7 linked regions of the Homo sapiens genome follow. The protein of the gene in region 1 purifies or fractionates together with the protein of each later gene. This does not show direct contact. Each region holds a gene or a part of one and is shown in the gene's direction. Other genes may lie near its edges. The genes, in order: HNRNPH3, PLEKHA7, HNRNPA2B1, EPS15L1, GSTK1, DNAJC3 and RPRD1B.

Evidence for each region.
Region 2: the proteins of HNRNPH3 (region 1) and PLEKHA7 purify together in Homo sapiens (co-immunoprecipitation; one large-scale study listed by IntAct). This does not show direct contact.
Region 3: the proteins of HNRNPH3 (region 1) and HNRNPA2B1 fractionate together in Homo sapiens (co-fractionation; 3 studies listed by BioGRID and IntAct, with this or other methods). This does not show direct contact.
Region 4: the proteins of HNRNPH3 (region 1) and EPS15L1 fractionate together in Homo sapiens (co-fractionation; one large-scale study listed by BioGRID). This does not show direct contact.
Region 5: the proteins of HNRNPH3 (region 1) and GSTK1 purify together in Homo sapiens (co-immunoprecipitation; one large-scale study listed by IntAct). This does not show direct contact.
Region 6: the proteins of HNRNPH3 (region 1) and DNAJC3 fractionate together in Homo sapiens (co-fractionation; one large-scale study listed by BioGRID). This does not show direct contact.
Region 7: the proteins of HNRNPH3 (region 1) and RPRD1B fractionate together in Homo sapiens (co-fractionation; one large-scale study listed by BioGRID). This does not show direct contact.

Annotation. Positions count from the first base shown.
Region 1 is NC_000010.11:68,338,564-68,342,063, forward strand, and holds part of HNRNPH3 (heterogeneous nuclear ribonucleoprotein H3), read left to right. Parts: coding exon 1-124; intron 125-576; coding exon 577-663; intron 664-876; coding exon 877-992; intron 993-2,548; exon of another isoform or gene 2,549-2,610; coding exon 2,611-2,746; intron 2,747-3,021; coding exon 3,022-3,117; intron 3,118-3,195; coding exon 3,196-3,288; intron 3,289-3,414; coding exon 3,415-3,491; 3' UTR 3,492-3,500.
Region 2 is NC_000011.10:16,815,415-16,818,914, reverse strand, and holds part of PLEKHA7 (pleckstrin homology domain-containing family A member 7), read left to right. Parts: intron 1-1,592; coding exon 1,593-2,115; intron 2,116-2,650; coding exon 2,651-2,737; intron 2,738-3,500. UniProt on the Homo sapiens protein: Required for zonula adherens biogenesis and maintenance. Acts via its interaction with CAMSAP3, which anchors microtubules at their minus-ends to zonula adherens, leading to the recruitment of KIFC3 kinesin to the junctional site.
Region 3 is NC_000007.14:26,190,747-26,194,246, reverse strand, and holds part of HNRNPA2B1 (heterogeneous nuclear ribonucleoproteins A2/B1), read left to right. Parts: intron 1-552; coding exon 553-672; intron 673-873; coding exon 874-996; intron 997-1,669; coding exon 1,670-1,731; 3' UTR 1,732-1,752; intron 1,753-1,908; 3' UTR 1,909-3,500. UniProt on the Homo sapiens protein: Heterogeneous nuclear ribonucleoprotein (hnRNP) that associates with nascent pre-mRNAs, packaging them into hnRNP particles.
Region 4 is NC_000019.10:16,461,971-16,465,470, reverse strand, and holds part of EPS15L1 (epidermal growth factor receptor substrate 15-like 1), read left to right. Parts: intron 1-3,500.
Region 5 is NC_000007.14:143,266,441-143,269,615, forward strand, and holds the end of GSTK1 (glutathione S-transferase kappa 1), read left to right. Parts: intron 1-1,176; coding exon 1,177-1,293; intron 1,294-1,650; coding exon 1,651-1,744; intron 1,745-2,347; coding exon 2,348-2,397; 3' UTR 2,398-2,675; downstream 2,676-3,175. UniProt on the Homo sapiens protein: Glutathione S-transferase that catalyzes the conjugation of glutathione to exogenous and endogenous compounds. Significant glutathione conjugating activity is found only with the model substrate, 1-chloro-2,4-dinitrobenzene (CDNB).
Region 6 is NC_000013.11:95,680,139-95,683,638, forward strand, and holds part of DNAJC3 (dnaJ homolog subfamily C member 3 precursor), read left to right. Parts: intron 1-3,500. UniProt on the Homo sapiens protein: Involved in the unfolded protein response (UPR) during endoplasmic reticulum (ER) stress.
Region 7 is NC_000020.11:38,047,246-38,050,745, forward strand, and holds part of RPRD1B (regulation of nuclear pre-mRNA domain-containing protein 1B), read left to right. Parts: intron 1-1,100; exon of another isoform or gene 1,101-1,102; coding exon 1,103-1,236; exon of another isoform or gene 1,237-1,357; coding exon of another isoform or gene 1,358-1,373; intron 1,374-3,500. UniProt on the Homo sapiens protein: Interacts with phosphorylated C-terminal heptapeptide repeat domain (CTD) of the largest RNA polymerase II subunit POLR2A, and participates in dephosphorylation of the CTD by RPAP2. Transcriptional regulator which enhances expression of CCND1.

The DNA of each region.
Region 1 (3,500 bases):
AGATTGCTGGGACAGCGACCGGGACCATATGATAGACCAATAGGAGGAAGAGGGGGTTATTATGGAGCTGGGCGTGGAAGTATGTATGACAGAATGCGACGAGGAGGTGATGGATATGATGGTGGTATGTGTATCTAATGAACAAAGGTTCTGTTGTCATTTTCTTAATGTTCCTGACACTTTGTCAAGAAATACAGAAATGGCAGTAATTTCAGTACCTATTAGGTTTTAAAACCTGTTCATGAAAATACGGATTCCCATGGCTAGCTGTGGGACTTGACTGATGCACATATTGGCACCTAGAAAACTTACACAGAAATTAAAATTAAGATGTTGGCATATTTTGACCTTTTTTTGCCTAAGGATGAAATTTAATTTACATGTCTGAACTTAATTAACTTTCTGAGATTTTAAATTTCCATCACGTTGACTGCTTTTTTCATAGGTTTTAAGTTGGGAATTGCAAACTTGCAATCAAGTTACACAGACTGTTACCACAAAATGTTTTTGTAAACTAAATTATAAAATTTATCTCTGGAAAGTGTGTAGTCATGTGTTTCTCCTTAAATTACACAGGTTATGGAGGTTTTGATGACTATGGTGGCTATAATAATTACGGCTATGGGAATGATGGCTTTGATGACAGAATGAGAGATGGAAGAGGTAAAATAAATATTAAAGACATTTTTATTCATAGGTAAATTTTAGTATTTGCTTTGCAAGCTCTTAGTGGTAATATAGGAAACTTGTATAAAGTTAATTCAGACAAATTTCAGTGCATTCCTATATAGAGCTTTATACCTTGTATAGTATGTATGTATACTTCCCTACTTGTATCTGTAATAGTTTATAATCTTGGCAAATTGTGTTTTCCAGGTATGGGAGGACATGGCTATGGTGGAGCTGGTGATGCAAGTTCAGGTTTTCATGGTGGTCATTTCGTACATATGAGAGGGTTGCCTTTTCGTGCAACTGAAAATGACATTGCTAATGTGAGTAATTTTTAATAACTATTAGTGGTTTTATACTTATCCTGGTGTCTAAATCTTTAAGCATTCTTAATGTTCTCATGTTTATAGCTTAATACCAAAATCCCTTGAATATAAAAATAGATCTACCTTTAATTCTTTTTTTGAGATGGAGTCTTGCTCTGTCCCCCAGGCTGAGTGCAGTGGTGTGATCTCGGCTCACTGCAAGCTCTGCCTCCCAGGTTCACGCCATTGTCCTGCCTCAGCCTCCCGAGTAGCTGGAACTATAGGTGCCCGCCACCACGCCTGGCTAATTAGATCTACCTTTAATTCTAATCACTGATGGATATTTTTGTATCCATTGTGTGTCAACCTACATAGGATTCAAACAAGTAAAAAGCTACATTCGTGAAGTCCAGTTAAGAGTATAATGAAAGACTGATCAGCATAGAATGGTGATGACTATACCATTTTGTGCTGGTGTCTTTTGTTGTACCGTTTTTTGTTTTGTTTTCTTTTTTGAGACAGAGTCTTGCTCTGTCGCCCAGGCTAGAGTGCAGTGGCGCGATCTCGGCTCACTGCAACCTCCACCTCCCGGGTTCAAGTTATTCTTCTGCCTCAGCCTCCTGAATAGCTGGGATTACAGGGGCACACCCCACCACTCCTGGCTAACTTTTTGTATTTTTAGTAGAGATGGGGTTTCACCATGTTGATCGGGCTGGTCCTGACCTCATGATCCGCCTGCCCTGGCCTCCCAAAGTGCTGGGATTACAGGCGTGAGCCACTGCGCCTGACCTGTATTAGGGTTTGAAAGAGTGAATATATAAATATTAGTGATTTGGTTTGGCTTTCTAGGCTAGATGGTGATTAGAAACTGAGGAGTTGGAAATAACAGGAATAGATGCTGCTGTTGTCACTGATGTGAAACTGGTTGGTTTCAGATTTGTTAGGAGGTCAGCAAACTTCAGTCCATGGGCTAAATCCGGTCACACCATTCCTCTACCTGTTGAGTGGTTACATTAGAGACCCAATGGCCATTCAGGCCAAAAGTACTGACTCTGGCTTTAAAAGCAATGGTGTGCTCTAGATCTTACTGGGAATCAGCTGGCCTGAGTTCCAACTGCTTTTAATGATAGTTTAAAACCTGGCTAACTTGTGATTAGAACCAAATGATATCTTTTGGGGAACAATTTCATATAGTCTTAAATAGGTGGCTTTATTCAAACCGCATAGTTCCAAATCATGATATCCCGTATTTCTCTCTGTGTGTTTGTGTGCTTTTTTTTTTTGACAGTCTCCCACTCTGTCTCTCTGAGGCTGGAGTGCAGTGGCGTGATCTCTGCTTACTGCAGCTCCCACCTCCTGCGTTCAAGCGATTCTCTGTCTCAGCCTTCTGAGTAGCTGGGATTACAGGCGTGAGCCACTGCGCCCTGCCTATCTGCTTATTTTAAAAGCAGTAAATTCTTTACATTATCCCTAAGTGTATACTCTGATATTCACAGAACCTCTGTAGTTGACTAAGTTATTAGTCTGACAGGGCAGTGGAAGGGTTTGTTTTAATTGATGAGGAAAAATCAAGGTATGTGGTAATTTACTTTAATATTCTCAATAGAAAAGTAAATAAGTGTTTCCTTTTATTTAGTTCTTCTCACCACTAAATCCAATACGAGTTCATATTGATATTGGAGCTGATGGCAGAGCCACAGGAGAAGCAGATGTAGAGTTTGTGACACATGAAGATGCAGTAGCTGCCATGTCTAAAGATAAAAATAACATGCGTAAGTGGTGTCTTTGGCACACAATCTTATTTCCTAAACGTGAATTTATAAAATAAGAGGCTCTAAGATCTGTAGGTAACGCTTGGCAGTTGTTGGGATTTAAAACCATTTGACCTCTATAATGGCTTTCTGTGGGCTTTATATATCGCTGTACTAGTAATTAATAAGCATACTTTGTTTAATATTACTTAATTGATCTTTTTTACAAAGCTTGTATTGATGAATTTTATCCATCATTCCTTTCTCCCCTGTTACTCTTTCTTTTTTTCTTAAAGAACATCGATATATTGAACTCTTCTTGAATTCTACTCCTGGAGGCGGCTCTGGCATGGGAGGTTCTGGAATGGGAGGCTACGGAAGAGATGGAATGGGTATGTAAAGTTTTTAAAATATGCAGGGTTAGCTGCTTATCGATGAGTCTCAATTTTTTTTCTTTTTTCTTTTTAAAGATAATCAGGGAGGCTATGGATCAGTTGGAAGAATGGGAATGGGGAACAATTACAGTGGAGGATATGGTACTCCTGATGGTTTGGGTGGTTATGGTAAGTATCTCTAGTTCAGTTTGTGTTAGTCCGCATATGTAGTGCAAACTTTAAAGTGCAGGTATTACTTTTATTATTTTATGCAGATATCTCCTGCTGAGTGATTCTTAATATCTTTTTCTTAAGGCCGTGGTGGTGGAGGCAGTGGAGGTTACTATGGGCAAGGCGGCATGAGTGGAGGTGGATGGCGTGGGATGTACTGAAAGCAAAAA
Region 2 (3,500 bases), on another chromosome or scaffold:
GGAGAATCACTTGAACCCAGGAGGCGAAGGTTGCAGTGAGCAGAGATTGCACCACTGCACTCCAGCCTGGGCAAAAGAGCAAGACTCTGTCTCAAAAAAGAAAAAAAAGAGAGAAAAAAAAAAGAAAGAAAATAAGATGGCTAGTTGGTGTTAGTTTTTGAAGTCATATCCAGTTTTGTGTGCTGGAGTGTTTATTGAAGGGCTAATTACGCACAGGACTTTCTTAGACTGTGGACAATACCACGGTGTGAAACACAGTTCCTGTCTTTCAAGAATTTTTCACCTTGGCCTGGGAAAACATGTCTTGGAAGTATGAAAAGATCACATCAATATAGGACCTTGGAAAAGTTACAGGCAGTGTGATGACGAGGTCAAACAGAGTTGGATCACTGAGGGCTGTGGCACTACAGAAGGTCCACGTGGGGGAAGGCATGAGCCAGCATCCTAGAGAATGAGTAAGACTTGGGTAAATAGAGCAAGGGGAGACCATCCAGGCAGGGGGAGGGAAGAACAGTGTTATAAGAGTAAGAAGGGCAGGAAGGGTACACACGTTAGTGAAGGACCTTCTGTGTATCAGATGTGGGGGTTGCATTTCCTAACCTGTCTCATTGATTCCTCAGAAGAGCCTTATGAGGCAGGTAATACTATCCTCCTGTTACAAGTAAGGAAACGGAAGGTCAGAGCAGTCAGGTGAGCTGCCTAGGGTCACAAAGCCAGCAAGTGTCAAGCTTGGCTTCAAACCCAGGTTAGACTCCTTTTTCCTTTTTCCGTTGCAAGATGTTGCTAAGGTGTGGAGGAGGCTGGGACGGGACTAGGGTGAGGCTGTCAGGCACCAGCAGGTGTAGGGGTGACCCTGAGATGGAGTACTTCCTTCAGTTTTGGGCCCTAGGCATTTGGCGTGGCCCGTAGGAAGAGCAGTGAGAAAACAGCAGGCCTGCAAGGTGGGTGTTGAGGTCAGCTGCTAGCGAGCTGTGAGTACCAGGCTGAGGAGTTTAGACTTTATTTCAGAAGGGACAAGGAGCCATGGAAGTTTTTGCAGCAAGGAACTGATATGATCAGAGCACTTGACTGTGGACAAAGTGGAAACCCATTAGGAGCATCTCAGAGTTGTCTGGAGGGAGATAATTAATCAGTATCTGGACTAGAAGAGTCCAGAAAAAAGAGAACTGATGCCAACCACTTCCTTTATGAACCTCTGGAACTTGGTGCTAAGGATACCAGGCAGAGAGAAAATCTTGGTAACTTGGAGAATTGTGAGGCCTTTCCTATAAATATGCATAGCCATTGAAAGAGCTGACTGCTGGCAGCGGAGAGAGAAGGAAAAGCCAGGTTTAATCACATTGCACTCCAAGTGATGGGCATGGGGTAGCCAAGTTGTCCTGGCAGAGGAAGTTGACAGAGAAAAATGGTTTTGGAGTCGTCTGCCAAAAGGGGAAGTGACTGAAGTCCTGGATGTCGGCCTTGATCATTCTTTTGAGGTTCTTACAGGACTGTCCCACATGCCCAGCTTTGTGGGTTTACTTAGATATGTTCCCCAAAGCCTGCAGAACCCTCGCTTGGTTGCCTGACCCGTTCTTACCCTTTCTCCTCAGTCTTCCCTTGGACCAGACGCTTCCTCGCCAGGGTCCTGGCCAATCCCTGTCCTTCCCAGAAAACTACCAGACTCTTCCCAAGAGCACCCGACACCCCTCGGGGGGCTCCTCGCCACCTCCCCGAAACCTGCCAAGTGACTACAAGTATGCGCAGGACCGAGCCAGCCACCTGAAGATGTCGAGTGAAGAGCGCCGGGCGCACCGGGATGGCACCGTGTGGCAGCTCTACGAGTGGCAGCAGCGCCAGCAGTTCCGGCACGGCAGCCCCACAGCGCCCATCTGCCTTGGCTCCCCAGAGTTCACCGACCAGGGCCGGAGCAGGAGCATGCTAGAGGTGCCCCGCTCCATCTCTGTGCCTCCATCTCCCTCGGACATCCCTCCCCCAGGACCCCCAAGGGTCTTCCCACCCCGGCGGCCACACACACCAGCAGAGCGAGTCACAGTGAAGCCACCGGACCAGAGGAGGAGTGTGGACATCTCGCTGGGGGATTCTCCAAGGAGGGCACGGGGCCACGCTGTCAAGGTGAGGCTCGGGAAGCTCTGCCAGGCTGCTGGGTCATCATGAGGGCGCCAGGAGCTTTGCCTGGTTTGAACACAAATTTGAGTAATTTGGGATAATAATGATAGCTAATACTTAGGCAGTACATTTTAATAATAGATGCCAGGCACAGTTCCCAAGGGCTTCGCTTTAAATTCTCACCACAACCCTGTGAGGTAGGTGCTATGTTTATGCCCATTTCAAAGATGAGAACTCTGAGGCGCTGAGAGACAAAGTAACTTGCACAGGGTCACACAACTACAAGTCAGCTTCCTTGCATCTTGAAAGGCAGGAAAAGACATCTGTGTCCAGTCAGTTAAATTATAACAATCCAGCTTAAGTTTTCACTTTCCAAGAGGCTTTCACAGTTTAGTGTTCTAACCCTGAGAGTAAGATGTGTGTGCTCATTTCATAGATGAGAAGTCTGGGGCTCAGAGGGGACATGGCATGGGGCGGCTTCCCTGGGAGTGAGTGGCAGAGGTTTGGGCTCCAGTGTGACTTCTTGTCTCCCCACTTGCAGAACTCATCTCATGTGGACCGACGCTCCATGCCCTCCATGGGTTACATGACCCACACCGTCAGCGCTCCCAGTTTACATGGAAAATCGGTAGGGTGAATGACAAGACATAGCCTGCAAAGCCCTATCTCATCAACATTTTCCTTCCTCTGAGTTAGTACAATGCAGTCCAGAGGGCAGCTATTAACCCCCATATTAGAGATGAGGAAACTGAGGCTCAGAGAAGTTGAATGACTTGCTTAGGGTCACCTGGCTGTCACTGGGTCCCCAGTGAAGGGGAAGAGCGTATCAGGGAAATGTAGGGGAATATTAGGCTTATCTCCTCTTTCAAGATGAATTTTGCCAGAAACATTTTTCAGCTACCCACCTTTTTCCACAGGCAGTGCCTCTCCTTTCTTCCCTGATCTTTGATTAGTTAACTAGTTAACTCAATCTTCAAAGCTCGAGTCTGAGACCAGGTGTGGTTGTTCATACTTGTAATCCTACCACTTTGGGAGGCCGAGGTGGGTGGATCATTTGAGGCCAGGAGTTCAAGACCAGCCTAGCAAACATGGCGAAACCCCGTCTCTACTAAAAATACAAAAACTATCTGGGTGTGGTGGTACACTCCTGTGATCCCAGCTATTCGGAAGGCTGAGATACGAGAACTCAGGAGGTGGAGTTTGCAGTGAGCCGAGATCACGCTGCTGCACTCCAGCCTGGGTGACAAAGCAAGACTGTCTCAAAGCAGAAGAAAAAAAAAGCTTGAGTCTGGGTGAGGTTGCACTGTTGGTTGTTGCTTTCCTGAAAAAAACTTCCTGAAGCCCTTTTACTGCCAGTGCCTTTATTTGTCCTAATGACAGAATTGACACAG
Region 3 (3,500 bases), on another chromosome or scaffold:
TGTTTTGTATTTTTAGTAGAGATGGGGTTTCACCGTGTTAGCCAGGGTGGTCTCAATCTCTTGACCTCGTGATCCGTCCGCCTCGGCCTTCCCAAAGTGCTGGGATTACAGGCATGAGCCACTGTGCCCAACCGAGAACATTGTTTTAAGATATGTAATTCGTAGAGAGACATAATAGAAACTTTATCTTTTGGGCCAGTAGGAGGAAGTGCTCTTTTACTTTCCCTCTAGCCCACACTACTAGTCTAGCCTCACAGTCCTTACCCACAATATACATGAAGTATTTCAAGATACTTAAGATTTTTAGTTTTGAGGGAAAGCTGTGGAATTACAGGTATTTAACTGTGTGCACATGGTGTTATCCATTTGGCTGAGTAACCCCAGCCACCAAATGTTTACCAAGGATAGTTATTCAGTCCTTGAAGCTATTTTAGAGGAATTTCATTAAATATTTCACATGGAAACTTGGAAAGCTGGAAATGGATGTGAGGAGACAGTTCAAAATGGTATTGAAAATATTAAGTGATTACTTAAAGGCTTATTTTATAATAGGTGGCAATTTTGGAGGTAGCCCCGGTTATGGAGGAGGAAGAGGAGGATATGGTGGTGGAGGACCTGGATATGGCAACCAGGGTGGGGGCTACGGAGGTGGTTATGACAACTATGGAGGAGGTAATAAATTCACCTGCAACCTTTATGTGGGAATTTGGAATTAATGTCTTTGTAACACTTGATCTTTTGTTTCCATGTTTGTCACTAGATGCCCATAAAATTTGTGGATAAGTGTTTGCTTTTATTTGTTTTTATGGGAGCTTTGTCCTAAGTCCTTGGTTTAATGTTTGTATTGTTCTGAGTATTCCAATTTTTTAATAGGAAATTATGGAAGTGGAAATTACAATGATTTTGGAAATTATAACCAGCAACCTTCTAACTACGGTCCAATGAAGAGTGGAAACTTTGGTGGTAGCAGGAACATGGGGGGACCATATGGTGGAGGTAATTTATAAAAATTGAGGTTATTCAGATTTTTGTGATTAAAGGATTAGCCTTTTGTGACTTAAAGGGAAGATAACATACTAAGTAGTTTGTACTGTGGGCAGTGCTCCATGTACGGTCTTAGTGAAAATAAAGAAATTTTGCATAAATCTCCACAGAAGTACTCAGCAAGCAGTTATGACATCAAATTGGGATTAGGGATGTTGGAGGTGGGGGTGTTCAGTAGTTTAATTTCTGGTGGGGACTCATAAACAGCTAAATACAGTTGCAACCCACATTGCAAGTGGTATACATTGGAATGAGGGTCTTTGAAGTTAAATCCTTAAACCATGATTCAAACCATTGCTTAGCTTATTTTTGAGGTTTTTAGCTAGGAGTAAACTAGCTTTGTCTTGGGCTTGATGTACTTTTAAAAAAATCCCTTACTCAGTCCAAATGAGGATGAGAGGGTGAAAGGACCCTTTATTTAAAAGAATAGGGTCAGCCACGAAATAAAAATGTCTATGAACCCGAGTAATTTATCTCCTGAGTAATTCTGCTAACTGGCTGCAAAGGATTAGGATCTGCTTGTTTAAAAGACTGGATGGATATAAAATAGAATCAACTGTAGTGTTAGGCTGATCATGGGAAATCAAAGTAAGTTTGTTTTCTCTTGCTGTTCCAACAATTATAGGAAACTATGGTCCAGGAGGCAGTGGAGGAAGTGGGGGTTATGGTGGGAGGAGCCGATACTGAGCTTCTTCCTATTTGCCATGGGTAAGTAGCTTTTGAGTTTTACAATTATTATTATCTTGGGAGACATAGCTGCAGGAGTAAAAGCTTTTTAGGATCATGTTATCTTTCCTTAAAATCTGGTTAGATGGATAATTTCATAACCTATTTTTTTTTTACTCTTTACTTCTGTTGAAACAGGCTTCACTGTATAAATAGGAGAGGATGAGAGCCCAGAGGTAACAGAACAGCTTCAGGTTATCGAAATAACAATGTTAAGGAAACTCTTATCTCAGTCATGCATAAATATGCAGTGATATGGCAGAAGACACCAGAGCAGATGCAGAGAGCCATTTTGTGAATGGATTGGATTATTTAATAACATTACCTTACTGTGGAGGAAGGATTGTAAAAAAAAATGCCTTTGAGACAGTTTCTTAGCTTTTTAATTGTTGTTTCTTTCTAGTGGTCTTTGTAAGAGTGTAGAAGCATTCCTTCTTTGATAATGTTAAATTTGTAAGTTTCAGGTGACATGTGAAACCTTTTTTAAGATTTTTCTCAAAGTTTTGAAAAGCTATTAGCCAGGATCATGGTGTAATAAGACATAACGTTTTTCCTTTAAAAAAATTTAAGTGCGTGTGTAGAGTTAAGAAGCTGTTGTACATTTATGATTTAATAAAATAATTCTAAAGGAAATTGTGTAATTATAGACTTTTTATTTTAAATAAGTTAAGGAGTGGGTAGTATAATTAAGGTCCGTTGCAAAGCTGTTGTTATATTTGTATAAGATAAATGCTGGTCAGATGTAAGTGTGTTGTCTGCAATTCATCAGGATTAAATTATGTAGATAACTTAAGGGATATCTCTGCAAGGAGAAACACCTTTTTAGATCTTTTAGATGCTGCTTCTTCAATGCAAGGAAAGGAAATAACCCCAGCGAGGTACTCTTCAGGGACACAGGTCTAGTACAAGAGAACTCTTGACGGCTACTAAGTTCAGCCAGTCTTAAAAAACTGTGCTGTTTCTACAAAACTTTAACTACAGTAGTTTATAAGGATGCCAACGAAAGCTGAGGGTGTAGAGCAAAATAGTTCTAAGCTTCAGTTAAACTTCTTTAGGTAAGATCTTATTTACTTTTCCTTTCTTAATTTTCCTCCCTAAAAGATAAACTAATACTCTTAAATGGTCTTTCAGTATAGTGGTTCTTACGTAGTTTAACATAGCTATAAATTGAGTTTAACAATTTATAAACTCAAGAGAATAATTTTTATAAACCCTGTTTTCCAATCTGTCATTTACTTAAATTATTTTGGTTGTTTTTCCCTTTTTTTCCTTCTTTTCCCACCCCCTCCCCCTCCATGTGAAGATTTGGGTGCTTAACATATCATTTTTTTCCCTGCCGGAATTTTAGCATTGATATGAACCATGGACAAGTATATTCTGCTGCCACAAAGACTGTAAAGTGCTTCATTTCAACAGCTGAGGCAAGCCAAGTGATCATTAATAAAGCTTTTCTTGGTTCCTTCAGTGGTGTTGGTAGTAAAATGGTAGGTAAAAGTTAGGCTGCAAGTTCAATAAATCATGAGATTTCCCATCGTTACACCCTTGTGTATTCACATTTCTTGGATCAAACATTTTGAGTGAACTAGGGGTTTTTATTAAAGACATTTGTTGTATTTATGGTTGTAACTGTACATGCTTATCAGGATGAGACTGAAAGAAGGTAGGGCAAAAATGGTTGAATCTATTTTCAGATAGTAGTTCATACTTGAGTGAAGTGTCTTGTCTGCATT
Region 4 (3,500 bases), on another chromosome or scaffold:
CCTCAAGTGATCCTCCTGCCTCTGCCTCCAAAGCGCTGAGATTACAGGTGTGAGCCACCACTCCCAGCCAGTTGTCTTTAGGAGAATCCAAAGGTTTCCCTGCCAGAGTGGTAATCAGTGCTCCTGGCCCATGCAGAATTGAGTTGTCCAGGCCCGGCCCACAGCAGAGGCTCAGGTCACGGGTGGTCCAAGCTGCAGGAGGGGCAGATGACTGGCTTCCATTTGGGTGTTGGACATGGTTGTATGGAGGAGAGGGCGTGTTTGGTGTAGGCCAAGCTTGTCCAACCCATGGCTGCATGTGGCCCAGGATGGCTTTGAATGCAGCCCAACACAAATTTGTAAACTTTCCTAAAACATTATGAGGTTTTCTTGTGAATTTTTTTTTTTTTTTTGAGACTAAGTCTCGCTCTGTTGCCCAGGCTGGAGTGCAGTGGTGCAATTTCGGCTCACTGCAAGCTCCGCCTCCTGGGTTCATGCCATTCTACTGCCTCAGCCTCCTGCGTAGCTGGGACTACAGGCACCCGCCACCACACCTGGCTAATTTTTTGTATTTTTAGTAGAGACGGGGTTTCACTGGTTAGGCAGGATGGTCTCGATCTGACCTTGTGATCTGCCCGCCTTGGCCTCCCAAAGTGCTGGGATTACAGGCGTGAGCCACCATGCCCACCCGTGAATTTTTTAAAGCTCATCAGCTATCATTAGTGTTAGTGTTAGTGTTAGTGTTAGTGTTAGTGTTAGTGTATTTTATGTGTGGCCCAAGACAATTCTAGTGTGGCCCAGGGAAGCCAAAAGATTGGACACCCCTGGTCTAGGCCATGGGGAATAGCCTTTCACACGGAGGCAAAGAGGACTGAGCCAGAGCTGAGAGGCTGCAGGTCTAGGTCAAAGGGCCAAAACATGCGGCTGGGACTTTGGGGTTCATGTCCTTCCTTTAATTTAGGCAGCTCAGGGATGAGAGGAGGAAGGTCTTTTGGTAAATAAGACGTGAGAGTTTGTGTCTGGGCTACAAATCGGCCGAACTGACAGGATGTCTGCTTGCCGAGAGAGTGGCCAGTGGCTGGTGGGGGCTGAGGAGCTGAGACCTGCCCACTGTCCTTCGCGCTGGACTGGGTTTTACCGCTGGTCAGAGTGGTGGCCCTGAAGTTTGCTCCTGCATGGAGTGCAGACCATTAGCTCTTAAAGCTTCTTTGGGCTTTTCCCTTCATAGGAGTCCCAGCTCTTGATACTACAAGCTTTGGGGTGAAAGTAAAGGTCACAGATGACCACAGACATTTGTCTCGGATTTCCATCTGCACTGCCTGTGGTGTGGAATGTAGACCTGATAACAGAATCTGTTTACTGACTGCCTGCAGGTCAGGCTGACATAAAGTCACTTCTCCTCCTCTTGGGCACACCAGCCAGGCTGGATCAGGCGCTGCTACCGGCAGCTGACAGCACACCTGCTCCCCGTGTTTCCCAGGCCTGCAGTCCTCATTCCCTCTGCTCTGTGGCCCCCTGGCCCCTCTTTCTGTCATCTGCGCAGGCGATCCTTCATCTTGCCTCAAGGCGTTTGCATCTGCTATTCCCTCTCTCTGGAATGCTCTTTCCAAACCCTTCATCCTCTGGTGAATCCCTACACCTTTTCATATCAGCTGGGGCATCACTTCCTCAGGGAAGCCTTTCCTGACAAACTGGCCCAGCATCTCTGTTACCACTGGTGGAGATGGACACCTTTTCCATTTAGCCGTTTATAATTTTCTCTTTGCGGGGTTGATTGATGGTCTGTCTTCCCCAACCACCTAGACTAGGTCCACAAGGGCAGAGACTGTGCCTGTTTTATTCATCCTTGTTTGCCAGGCTGCAGCTGGCACTCAGGTGCTCAACAATCATCTGTTGAGGGAAGAGTAGCATGGGCCACATTATGAGAGGCAGTAGGGAGCTATGGCAGGTTCTTGAGGAGTGACACCTTTAGATGATCTGGCTGCTTACACAGGGAGTGCTTGGAGCTGGGTTCTAGCTCCGAGACAGTCTCTGTGATATGGGCATGAAGTGATCAAGAGGAACCTGGCCTGAGGTTGTTTCAGGAAGAGTAGAAAGGGCTGGGGGTGAAAGGAATATGTGGGGTAGCTGTTTGGACAGGTGAGGGTCTAGGTGGGAGAGGAAGCAGGGGGAAGAAGCAGGCATAGTGTCTGCAACCGTCAGGTTGAGGCCACCTTCAGGGAGCCAGGACAGCAGCAGTGGGAGTGCCTGGTGGGCAGAGCCTGGTGGGCTGTGGCTGTGTCAGTTGAGTCAAAACCCATCACTTTGCAGGAAACCCTCCAAGCCACGTGAGACCCCACATTTAGGTACAGTCAAAAAGAAGACCAGCTCTGGGGCTGGGGCACCATGAGATTCTGTCTGCTGAGCTACTGTGTGCTGTCTTGGGACCAAGATAAATAAAACCGAGCCCCACCCTCCAGGTCAGCTCAACTGCAGCTGGGCACCCAGGCACACAGAAAATTAGGACATAGTGTGACACACTCGTGGAAGTCAGGTGGCACCCACAGCGGTGGGATGAATCACCTCCACTGGGCTGGGAATAAAGGACAGGAGGAAGAGGGCGCCTGTGCCTCCTTTTGTCTTTTCCCTCCTCTGTTCCAACAGGCCTGGAGGAAGCAGCTGGGTGCAGCCTCTCTGACTGGCTGTACACTGCGTGGACCAGTGTCCTGCCCCCACCCTTTGCACAGGCCCTGTCTCCCACCACCATCTTCACAGCTTCCTGGCCCCCTCTCTGCCTTCTCAGAGTCCCACTTCCCTGATTCTTTGTTTTACTTTATTTTTTCTTGAGGTGGAGTCCCGCTTTGTCACCCAGGCTGGAGTGTAATGGCATGATCTTGGCTCACTGCAGCTTCCGCCATCTGGGCTCAAGCAATTCTGCCTCAGCCTCCCAAGTAGCTGGGATTACAGGTGCACACCACCAAGCCTGGCTAATTTTTTTGTATTTTTGTATTTTTAGTAGAGACAGGGTTTCACCATGTTGGCCAGGCTGGTCTCGAACTCCTGGCCTCTAGTGATCCACCCACCTTGGCCCCCCAAAGTGCTGGGATTACAGGTGTGAGCCACCATGCCCTCCCCCCCACTTCCCTGATTCTGGTAACCTGGTCTCCCAGAACAGGTGGCAACGGGACCCCAGCCCTGGTGGTACCCTGACTGCCCTCACCAGTGAGTGGGCCCAGGCAGGCAGCTCTGGGCCCTGGGGAGAGATTTGGGGCACAGGTCTGATGCAGGAGTGAGGGAATGTTGTGGGACCAACAATGGTGCCATTGTCCCTGTGCTTGTTTCTAGATGAGGAAACTGAGAGGGAGAGAGGTAAAACAACTGGTCAGACCCCCATGGAGAACAGGCGTCTGAATCAGACCATGGGCTCCAAAGCCACCATTTTGTCCTATGATTGCCACACCATGGGCTCCGGGAGGGTCGAGGAGCTCTGTCTTTCCTGCTCCCTGCTGGGTTCCCAGCCCCTGAAATCTGGGCTCCTGGCA
Region 5 (3,175 bases), on another chromosome or scaffold:
GTAGGACATAATTCTCTAATTTAACCAAGTCAAAGATAGTGTCTCATTAGGACAGGCTACATGAATTCCTGGGTCCCACTTCTGATCTAGGAAGTCAAGTTGCAGTGGTTGTCAATCTTGGCTGTGAATTAAAATCACCTGGAGCACCTTGGCGCTAACCCTTTCCCCTGGAATTGTGATGTAATTGTTCTTGTTCTTTTTTTTCTTTCTTTCTTTTTTTTTTTTTTTTTTTTTTTTTTGAGACAGTGTCTTGCTTTGTCACCCAGGCTGGGGTGCAGTGGCATGATCATGGCTCACTGCAGACTCAACCTCTTGGGCTCAAGTGATCTCGCATCTCAGCCTTACGAGTAGCTGGGACTTCAAGCATGTGCCACCATGCCTAATTTTTTAAAAATTTTTTGTAGAGATGGGGGTTTCACTTTGCTGCCCAGGCTGGTCTCGAACTCCTGGGCTGAAGCAATCTCCTGCCTCAGTCTCCCAAAGTGCTAGAATTACAGGCATGAGCCACAGTGCTTGGATCTAGTTCTAAGGGATGACCTCACGTGGAGATTTTTTAAAGCTCCTCAGGAGTTTCAGATGGGCAGCCAAAGTTAAGAACCATCTATCCCAAACTATACCAACAAACCACAAACTGAAGCCTTTATCTTTGTCTTGAAGCCAGGTAGGTGGCTGCAGCCATGTGCCTTGTTACAAAGTTCTCAGGAAGTTCCACTGGAATTACAGCCTAGCTCTTGATTCAAAAAAAGCATGAGATACTTAGGAACTGTGAGAGGTAGGAAGGAAAGAGCCCTGGACTTGAATTCTAGAGACCTGGATTCTAGTGTTGGCTCTGCTACCAACATGCTCTGTAACTCTGAGCAAGTAATGTATCACCTCTGGATTCAGGCTCTTCATTTGTGAAATAAAGAGGTCTATCTAGCTGCTCTCTAAGATGTCCGCTGGTGTTAATTTCTGTGATTGACTCTGTGCCATCTACCTTTTCTCCTTTTCCACCCATCTCAAGATTTGGGATAAAGGAAATAGTTCCTCTTGGCAAGGACAGATCTCCACTTGTGGGTGGGTAAGGGCATTGCCAGCAAAACTTGGGGGCAGAAAATAAAAAGACCAGAGTTTTCCTCTGAGATCCCCATCCAATATCATGCAGACACAGTTGTATTCCCTACTATATTCCCTTAGGCTGCAGAGAAGGCTGGTATGTCTGCAGAACAAGCCCAGGGACTTCTGGAAAAGATCGCAACGCCAAAGGTGAAGAACCAGCTCAAGGAGACCACTGAGGCAGCCTGCAGATACGGAGTGAGCAGCTCTTTATGTGTGTTCCCAGCACCCATCCTGAAGATGGAGACTTGAGAATCTCTAAGTTTGAGTCCTTATGCTCCTGTACAAAAGCCCCCTTTCCAAGTGTTCTCCTCAGTGCTCTTAAACAACCCTCATCTTCTTCCTTCTTTTCCTTGGGCTCAGGGAAAGGAAGGGAAGGAGATGCACAGTGAGAGAAAAGAGAGCATCTTAGAAACAGGAAGGCACCTGGGGCCACAGAGCCTCTTAGACCTCTTTGCTTCTGTGAACTCAGAAAAGTACTGACTCAAAGGTTTCAACCCCTGCCTAATACCTGCTCCTTTGCCTTCCTCCTTGCATTGTAACTGCTTTCTCCAGGCCTTTGGGCTGCCCATCACCGTGGCCCATGTGGATGGCCAAACCCACATGTTATTTGGCTCTGACCGGATGGAGCTGCTGGCGCACCTGCTGGGTAAGTAAGTTAAAGAATCAACCCTGAGCCAGGTGCAGTGGCTCACGCCTGTAATCCCAGCACTTTGGTAGGCTGAGGCGAGCAGAGCACGAGTTCAGGAGATTAAGACCATCCTGGCCAACATGGTGAAACCCCGTCTCTACTAAAAATATAAAAATTAGCTGGGACTACAGCTGCCTCAGTGGGAGGCTGAGGCAGGAGAATCACTTGAACCTGGGAGGCGGAGGTTGCAGTGAGCCGAGATCGCGCCACTGCACTCCAGCCTGGGTGACAAAGCAAGACTCCGTCTCAAAAAATAAAAAGATTCAACCCTGAGCTGCCTTTGACCCCAGCTCCACACCCACTATATCAGTTGACCAGAAGGAGGGGCTCAGAGCAAAAAAATATTCTTGGCACTTCCAGTAACAAAGCGTTATGCAGTCAGTGCTGTTCAAGGTTGAGTGGGCAGGGGCTGTCTTCAACCCCATAAAAGAAAAGGAAGCCTTCTATACCTTGAAGCCAAGCAAAAGTCTTTCTAGAAAACCCCTGGGACCTTGTGGGACCAACTCCTGCTGCCAGAACACCTGAGAACAGTGTGCAGAGTCTGTTGTTTTCTTCATCCAGGAGAGAAGTGGATGGGCCCTATACCTCCAGCCGTGAATGCCAGACTTTAAGATTGCCCGGAGGAAGCAAACTCTTCGTATAAAAAAAGCAGGCCATCTGCTTAACCCTTGGCTCCACCATAAGGCACTGGGACTCGGATTTCTCTATCTGATAGAGGTATTTTCTGTGGCCCTGGGAGCTGTCTGTCTTTCCCCTACCCCCAAGGATGCCAGGAAGACGTCCACCATTAGCCATGTGGCAACCTTTACTTCTATGCCTCACAAGTGCCTTTCAGAGAGCCCCAATTCTGCTTTCCCACAAAATAAACCTAATGCCATCAGGCAAAACATTTCTGTGTCTGTATCTGCCCTGGTATATTCTCATTCCTGGGGTCACATCCTGCCTACTCTAGGGGTAGGTGAAGGAGAGCTGTTTCAGTATTTCCAGCCAGACCAGCCATGCAGCCCACCTTGAGCAGCTTGTGCGGTGGAAGAAGTGAGAATAGTCCCCCGTTCTCTCACACAGAAACTCCCCTGGTCTCTCTATCAGCAACAGAAAACCAAGCCAGATGGACTTTGCAACTAATCAAGTTTGGGATTTACTGTCTTCTGACCAACCACAGTGACTGAGATGGGGCTGGGACCAGAAGCCCAGTGGGAGTGAACAGCCGAGGGAACCAGAGTCTGGCTGAGCTTGTGGCCAGATATTTAAACTGGGTCCAGCCACACCTGCAAAACCAGGGCAAGGCAGTACCGGGAAACTGGCTGGAGTTGCTGCGGTTTGGGGAAGTTGCACACCCTTTCATAGATACCTCCCTTAACCCTCAGTGCAGATTCTGAGAAAACTCCA
Region 6 (3,500 bases), on another chromosome or scaffold:
TAAGGAAGTTATTTCATTTCTTTGCTAATGGTTTGTCCTCTTGGTGACTTGAGTAGCAACACAGCCTGGGAACGAAACCTTTTTTCTCTTATCATAGTTTTATCTCTTTTTCTTCCTTAACATGCTATCTGGACCCAATTTTTCTTTATTTCATTGAGCTGATTAAACCATATATTTTGGCCATGGGGAAAAGAATAGTTGAAAATATATAGTTGAAAATCTATACGTATAAAATATTGTGATAAGTTTTATTTGAACCATGATAAGTTTTATTTGAACCTAACCTATTAAAGGTATGTTTTGTCTTTTCTAGGATTTTCTTGACATTATCTAAATAGGGAAAGAATAAAGTAGCAAAAATGAGTGACTTTAAGTAATTTAAATAAATTAAGTATCATAAAAGGTGGTCACATATTTTCTAGAATTATTTTAAATTCTTTAATAAGATAGGCTGTAGTTAGCAGTAGTATCAAAGTTCCAGTTCTCTTGACATAGTTAGTATTTGCTGAGAAACTGCCTGGAAATGCAGTGGTTTTCATTCTGTGAGGTAGGGGAAGTTGTTCTGGGAGGGGATGCACTGTAGTAATTAGGTTTTATTTTCCCATATGAAGTTAATTAATTGTTGTTAAGTTTAATTTCTACTGCTGTGGTCTCTTTTGATTAGTGTCCTGCAGTTAATCTTTGTTTATATGGAAGTATCATGGGAACCCATTCACCTGCTCTTCAGAACGCAAACATTTCAACCATAGATTTATTTTTCTTTCCATATCTTTAGAAAGCTACTTAAAAAAATTAAATCTGATGAGTTTGTATCATTTGGAGTTCTGGAATATGGAGAAGACTCATTTAATCAGTCAGCAAAGGCTTTTACTAACTATATTGCTCTTTGGTGAGGTATATATACGTAGCATAGAACTCATGGCTTTTGCTTTTGAGTTTACAGACCACTTAGGGTTTAAGACATGCATTTGTGAAGCATTCACGTCCTCTTTTTCTCCTTTCCCGCTTTAGACTGAGTGGTCCATTATTGTAGTTAGTGTACTGCAAATGCCCATTTATTTTCTGGCCCCTGTAATCTTCTGTTTTACTCACCTGCCAAAACCCAACACTGGTTAAATTCAACTTGGCCAACTGTTTTTATACCTTATAGGTAAACACGGACGGAGGAAAATGGAGACAACTTTGCTGATTAGTCTCATTTATCTTTATTTTTATTTTCAATTTTTTTTCGAGACAAGGTCTTGCCCTGTCACCCAGGCTGGAGTGCAGTGGCATGATCCTAGCTCAATGTAGGCTTGACCTCCTGGGCTCAAGCAGTCCTCCCATCTCAGCCTCCTGAATAGCTGGGACCACAGGTATGCACCACTGCATCCCCTACTAAGTTTTTAAAATTTTTTGTAGGGACAGGGTCTTCTATGTTGCCCAGGCTGGTCTTGAACTCCTGGGCTCAAGCAATCCTCATCCCTTGGCCTCCCAAAGTGTTGAGATTACAGGCACGAGCCAATGCACCTGGCCCTGATTAGTCTCATTTTAAAGAAACAATCTCAGTCGCAAATGCACATTAAATACTGCTAACACTCCCACAATTCTTTACTATGTCTATTCTTGAAAATCAATATTTCAAACATTTTCCTCCTTTCTGAAGCCTCTAATTTAAACTCTCCTTTCCTCTCTCCCCTACCTCATTCTTTTAGACCTTGTCTTTACTGAGAAAATGAAAGCCATCACAAGGCAAGTTCTTCTTTCTACCTCAAAATTCACTAGCTTATCTACATTTGTACCTATTCTGCTACTTTTTCTCATATTGAAATACATTAAATGTCTCTATTCCCAGATAAATCTAATCTGTGTACTTACACCCTGGATTCCATTTCCTCTCACCTTCTGAAAATGTTGCTCCTACAGTTGTATCTTTGTGCTGCTATAACAAAATACCACAGACTGAGTAATTTATAAAAAAAATTTCAACCTGAATTTTGGAGAGAACATTCAGATAATAGTAGATGCTGAACTTCCTGTACTATCTTTCTTTGGCTAGATTCCACTGTCTTCTGTGTTTCTGCTACAAGACTTCTTTTAGACTCTACCCCACCTTGCTAGAGTCTTGGCTTAGCCTTCTGTTCTTTTTTAGAGAAGAAACTTAGGGCTTTCCTCATTCCTCATATTCTAAGTGCTCCAACCTGAATAACCATCTCTCTCTCTGGGATTGCTCTCTGGTCTGGGTCTGCCACCGCCTTTGCTTGAACTTTAGTATCTTTGACTATGAGTTCTTGCCTCCTTTAGTCTGGTTCTTCCAGTCTTGATTGTAACTCACGTCATACCTTTAACCCCCCACCTTTAAGTTTAAAAAAATCCTTATTTTCTGCTCTCCAAAATATAAGATATTCTAATACTAATTTCAGTGAAAGACATAGTTGGCTACTCTACCTTTTTCCCTGCCCTTGCTGCTTATTTTGCTGACTTATGATCACTGCTTGTCTAAGGAGAAACCTATTGTCTAATGCTGATTAGGAAATGGCATGATGTTTGGTTGTCTTACCTCTCTGAAAATAATGTTTACAGACCATGTGGCAAAGGAATAAAAATTACCTGTGGCTCAAAAGAGAGTGGATTGCAAAAACAGCCAATAATTCGCAAATAATTTGATTTTTCAGATGTGTCTTTATGAATCATTGATCATATGTTTGACTTGATAATTGTTATGTATTTTAGATTTTATTCTGATGAATTATAATACGTTTAAGTAAAAAGGCAAATAGTTAAATTCATTCAACAAATATTGCATACCCACTATGTGCGGGATACTGAATTAGGTGATACAAAGAAGAAAAGACAGCTCCTCCTCTCAAACTTGCTTTTGATAAGTTTTGTGGAGTTGGGACTTTGAGAAGCAGGCAAATTGTGAAAAGCAATATATAGAGAGAGTGATATTGCAAAGTGAAGTCATGTACTTCTGAGTGTGGAAATGCAAAATATAGGAAGATTGAAGGAGCTTTTTTTCCCTCTCTCAAAACAATACAGTGTGAGGGAAGGTTTCACAAAGGAGCCAGCATTTGAGGGCAGAATCTTTTTTTTTGTTTAACTTTATTTTATTTTAGATTCAAGATATACATGTGCAGGTTACATGGGTATATTGTGTAATGGTGGGGTGGTATGATTTAGATCTGTGCCCCACCCAAATCTCATGTTCAGCTGTAATCCCCAGTGTTGGATCTGGGGCCTGGTGGGAAGTGATTGGATCATGGGGGTGGTTTCTAATGGTTTAGCACCATCCCCCAGAGCTGTTATTGTGATAGAATTCTCACAAGATCTGGTTGTTTAAAAGTGTGCAGTATCTCCCCCCTCTCTGTCTTCCTCCGGCTCTGGCCATGTGAAGATGTGCCTACTTCTCCTTTACCTTTTGCCATGATTGTAAATTTCCTGAGGCCTCCCCAGCCATGCTTCATGTACAACCTACAGAACCGTCAGCCAATTAAACCTCTTTTCTTTATAAATTACCC
Region 7 (3,500 bases), on another chromosome or scaffold:
TTTTATGTACTCTGATTGAGTCCTTTAGTCAGTGAAATTTACCACTAATAATTCATAAGTGAGACATTCTGACTGGGCTAGGCTGAAACCTAAGTTCTCCTTGAGTTTATGAAAGCGTTGTCATGGTCGGGTGTGAATAGAGTTCCCATCTCAGTTGAATTGGCATGGTTTCTCCTTGAAGTTCCTATTAAAAGCCATTTAACTTAGATACTAAGATGTCGAGGTATCCCTTCTTGTTTAAAGTCATTCAGTATAAGATCGTTGCCATTTAAACCCCCTCACAAAACAGAAGATTTCATGGTAACAGTGCATGGTGACTGAATTCACTTTGCTTTCAGAAAGTCTAACCCAATCTTCTGCTTGCTGTCTGAGATTTTATTGTAGGCAATTGGTTCTCAGTGAGTGCTAGTTATAGTCCTTTATATCCTGTTTCAGGAGTTAACATGTCAGGGGAAAACATTTTCTAACTTCTAATTCATATCCTTTGATATAAATTATGAAGGACTGCATTATTAAGTGTGTTCTAAGATTATCAGATACCTTTGTGTGAACCTGGACTATGGACTTAGCCCAGAATTAAAATAATTATGCAGTGGTTAGAACTGGAATGATTCTTGACATATACATGTATGTGATTGTGTTTATACATGTAGAGGTGTTGGTGTGTTAGAATTGATGAGTTGCAGTGAATTTATTTCCTGTTTTAAACATCTGGTTTTTTAAAATCATTTTTCTATCTTTAAGAGTTCTGATCCACTTTTAATTTCCAGCAGAATGTCTGGCATTTTAATTAACGTCTTCTTAAAAAGCAAGCTATCACAACTGATAAGATGGAGTTTTGATAATTTTCTGTCTGTAAAAATTGGCCATTGACTTTTGGTCCTATTTGATTTCAATTATGGCATGATCCCTCCCACTGCACGAAGAATGTAGTTTGTGGTCAAGTTTTGGGTATCCAGGTATTACAATATGTACCTTATTTGGTTTTAAATGTGTAAATCATTTAGTCAGTTGTTGATTTCTTTTTTTTTTAAGTAGGTCTGTCCTAATTAAAAGCAAAAAATCTTAAGCTTATATATATCTTTTCATCTTTTCTGGGCAGAGAGGCAGATGAAGGCTGTAAAAAACCTTTAGAAAGATTGCTGAACATCTGGCAAGAACGAAGTGTGTATGGCGGCGAGTTCATACAGCAGCTGAAGCTGTCTATGGAGGACTCCAAGAGCCCTCCCCCCAAAGGTAGAAACATCACCACATGTTTACAGCTCTTGGTCTTTGCCTACTTTCGAATCAAATATGAAAAGCTGCAGTGGGGTTTGCTGTGAACCACCAGCGATTTTATGATTCTTCAGAGAGACAGATGATCATGAATGATGGTGAGAATTTATGTAGTGCTCACAGCGTGTAAGCCTGGTTCTAGTATTCATGCTATTCATCCTCTCACACCCTGACTTTTGCTCTCTGTTCTCCTTGGCTTGCTTCTGTCTTTCAGAGACTTTCCTTGCACAAGGAAAGGAACAACAAAGTTGTTCAGAGTTGTGGTGAACTAGGAAGTAGCCTGGACTAAGATTTTGTCCTTGCTCTGCCATTAACTACAATAGGACCTTGGATAAGTTTCTTAGCTTTTTAAGAACTTGATTTAATTAAATGTAGATGTGCTTTTGAAACATATCCTTAGGATTGTCAGCATGGTGTCTGTCTAAAGTTGATTGTTTGTTTGTTTTGGAGACAGAGTCTCACCCTGTCATCCAGGCTGGAGTGCAGTGGCGTGATCTCGGCTCACTGCAACCTCCGCCTCCTGGGTTCGAGCCATTCTCCTGCCCCAGCCTCCTGAGTAGCTGAGATTCAGGCACCTGCCACAACACCCGGCTAATTTTTGTATTTTTAGAAGAGACGGGGTTTCACCATGTTTGCCAGGCTGGTCTCAAACTCCTGACCTCAAGTGATCTGCCCGCCTCGGCCTCCCAAAGTGCTGGATTACAGGTGTGAGTCACTGCGCCCAGCTTAAAACTGATTTTGATCTTTACTGAACCCAGGATATCTTTAGGAAGTGCATCTGTGTGTGAATTTTGCAAAGCCCTTAATAAGAGCTTATATTATTTTTTCTTTTTTCTTTCTTTTTTTCTTTTTTTTTTTTTTTTTTTTTGAGACAGAGTCTTGCTTTGTTACCTGGGCTGGAGTGCGGTGGTATGATCTCAGCTCACTGCAACCTCCGCCTCCCGGGTTCAAGCAGTTCTTTGCCTCAGCCTCCCGAGTAGCTGGAATTACAGGCACCTGCCACCATGCCCAGCTAATTTTTGTATTTTTGGTAGAGACAGGGTTTCACCATCTTGGCCAGGCTGGTCTTGAACTCCTGACCTCGTGATCCACCCGCCTCAGCCTCCCAAAGTGCTGATATTATAGGCGTGAGCCACCTCACCTGGCCTATTTTTTTCTTTAAAGAGTAAGATCAAATGTTGTTTAGTTACTTGGCTTCTGGTTAGTTGTGGTTTAATTCTAGTTGGCATGACATGTTTCTTAGCTACAGATCTGATCTGCCTGCATACATGTTTCCTGGAGGATCGAGTCCAAGTACTGATAGTATTGAAGACCCTTTCTATCTGAACTAGCCTGTTTTTCCAGATTCTTCTCCTGCCACTTCCTCACTTACACTGTATTCTTTGGCCAAACTGAATTGCCGACAGTTTACCCTCTGGATGCTCTGTTGGCACTGCTTCCTTTCCATCTGCTGTTACCTCTACTTGATGTCCTTCTACCGCTTTCACTGTGTGATGAACTCATTCTCCAAGAATGCAACTCTCATTCTGACATCTTCCCTGGCTTGTCTGGGCCCATGTGGTCATTCCCTCCTTGTTCTCTGGTACTTTATACATGCATCTGCTATAGAACCTAGTCATGATTAGCATGTGTGACAGTATCCTTCACTGAGTAACCCTTTTGTGTACCCTTCATGATCCTTTCCAGGTCTGGAATTATTTGCATTTTGCAGTGGGTAACTTTCCTGTGAAACCAAAGGTTAGAGGCTTTCTGTGAATGACATAAGTGCTTTCAGACTGCAGGTCATTGTTGTTTTACTTGGTGTTGCTAGAAGATAATTTTAGGATCACTCAGGTGATTGGTAGCTTCTGAAAAGCAAGATGTTTCCTGCTTTGGATTCTGGTGTTTTTATTGTGTCCTTTGGAGGTCTTCAGTACAGCTTTGGGGAATTACTCAGCATTCTTTACTCTGCCTTAGAGTTCATTGGTAAACAGTGCTGGTTTTTAAGAACACCTTTGGGCAAGTAGGAGAGCCTTGAAAGAGGATGTTTGAAGCTAATGTTGAATTTCAATTTAATGTACATTTGCTGGACACATACTTTGAATAAACAGATATGCTAGATGCTATAGGAAAGAGGGAGAAAAGAGTGAGGAATAGGTTTGCACTCTGGGAATGTGTGGAATTTGTGGCAGTGATAGTATTGGGAATAGCTTCAGTGGGTTTCTGATTTTTTTTTGAAAGTCTAG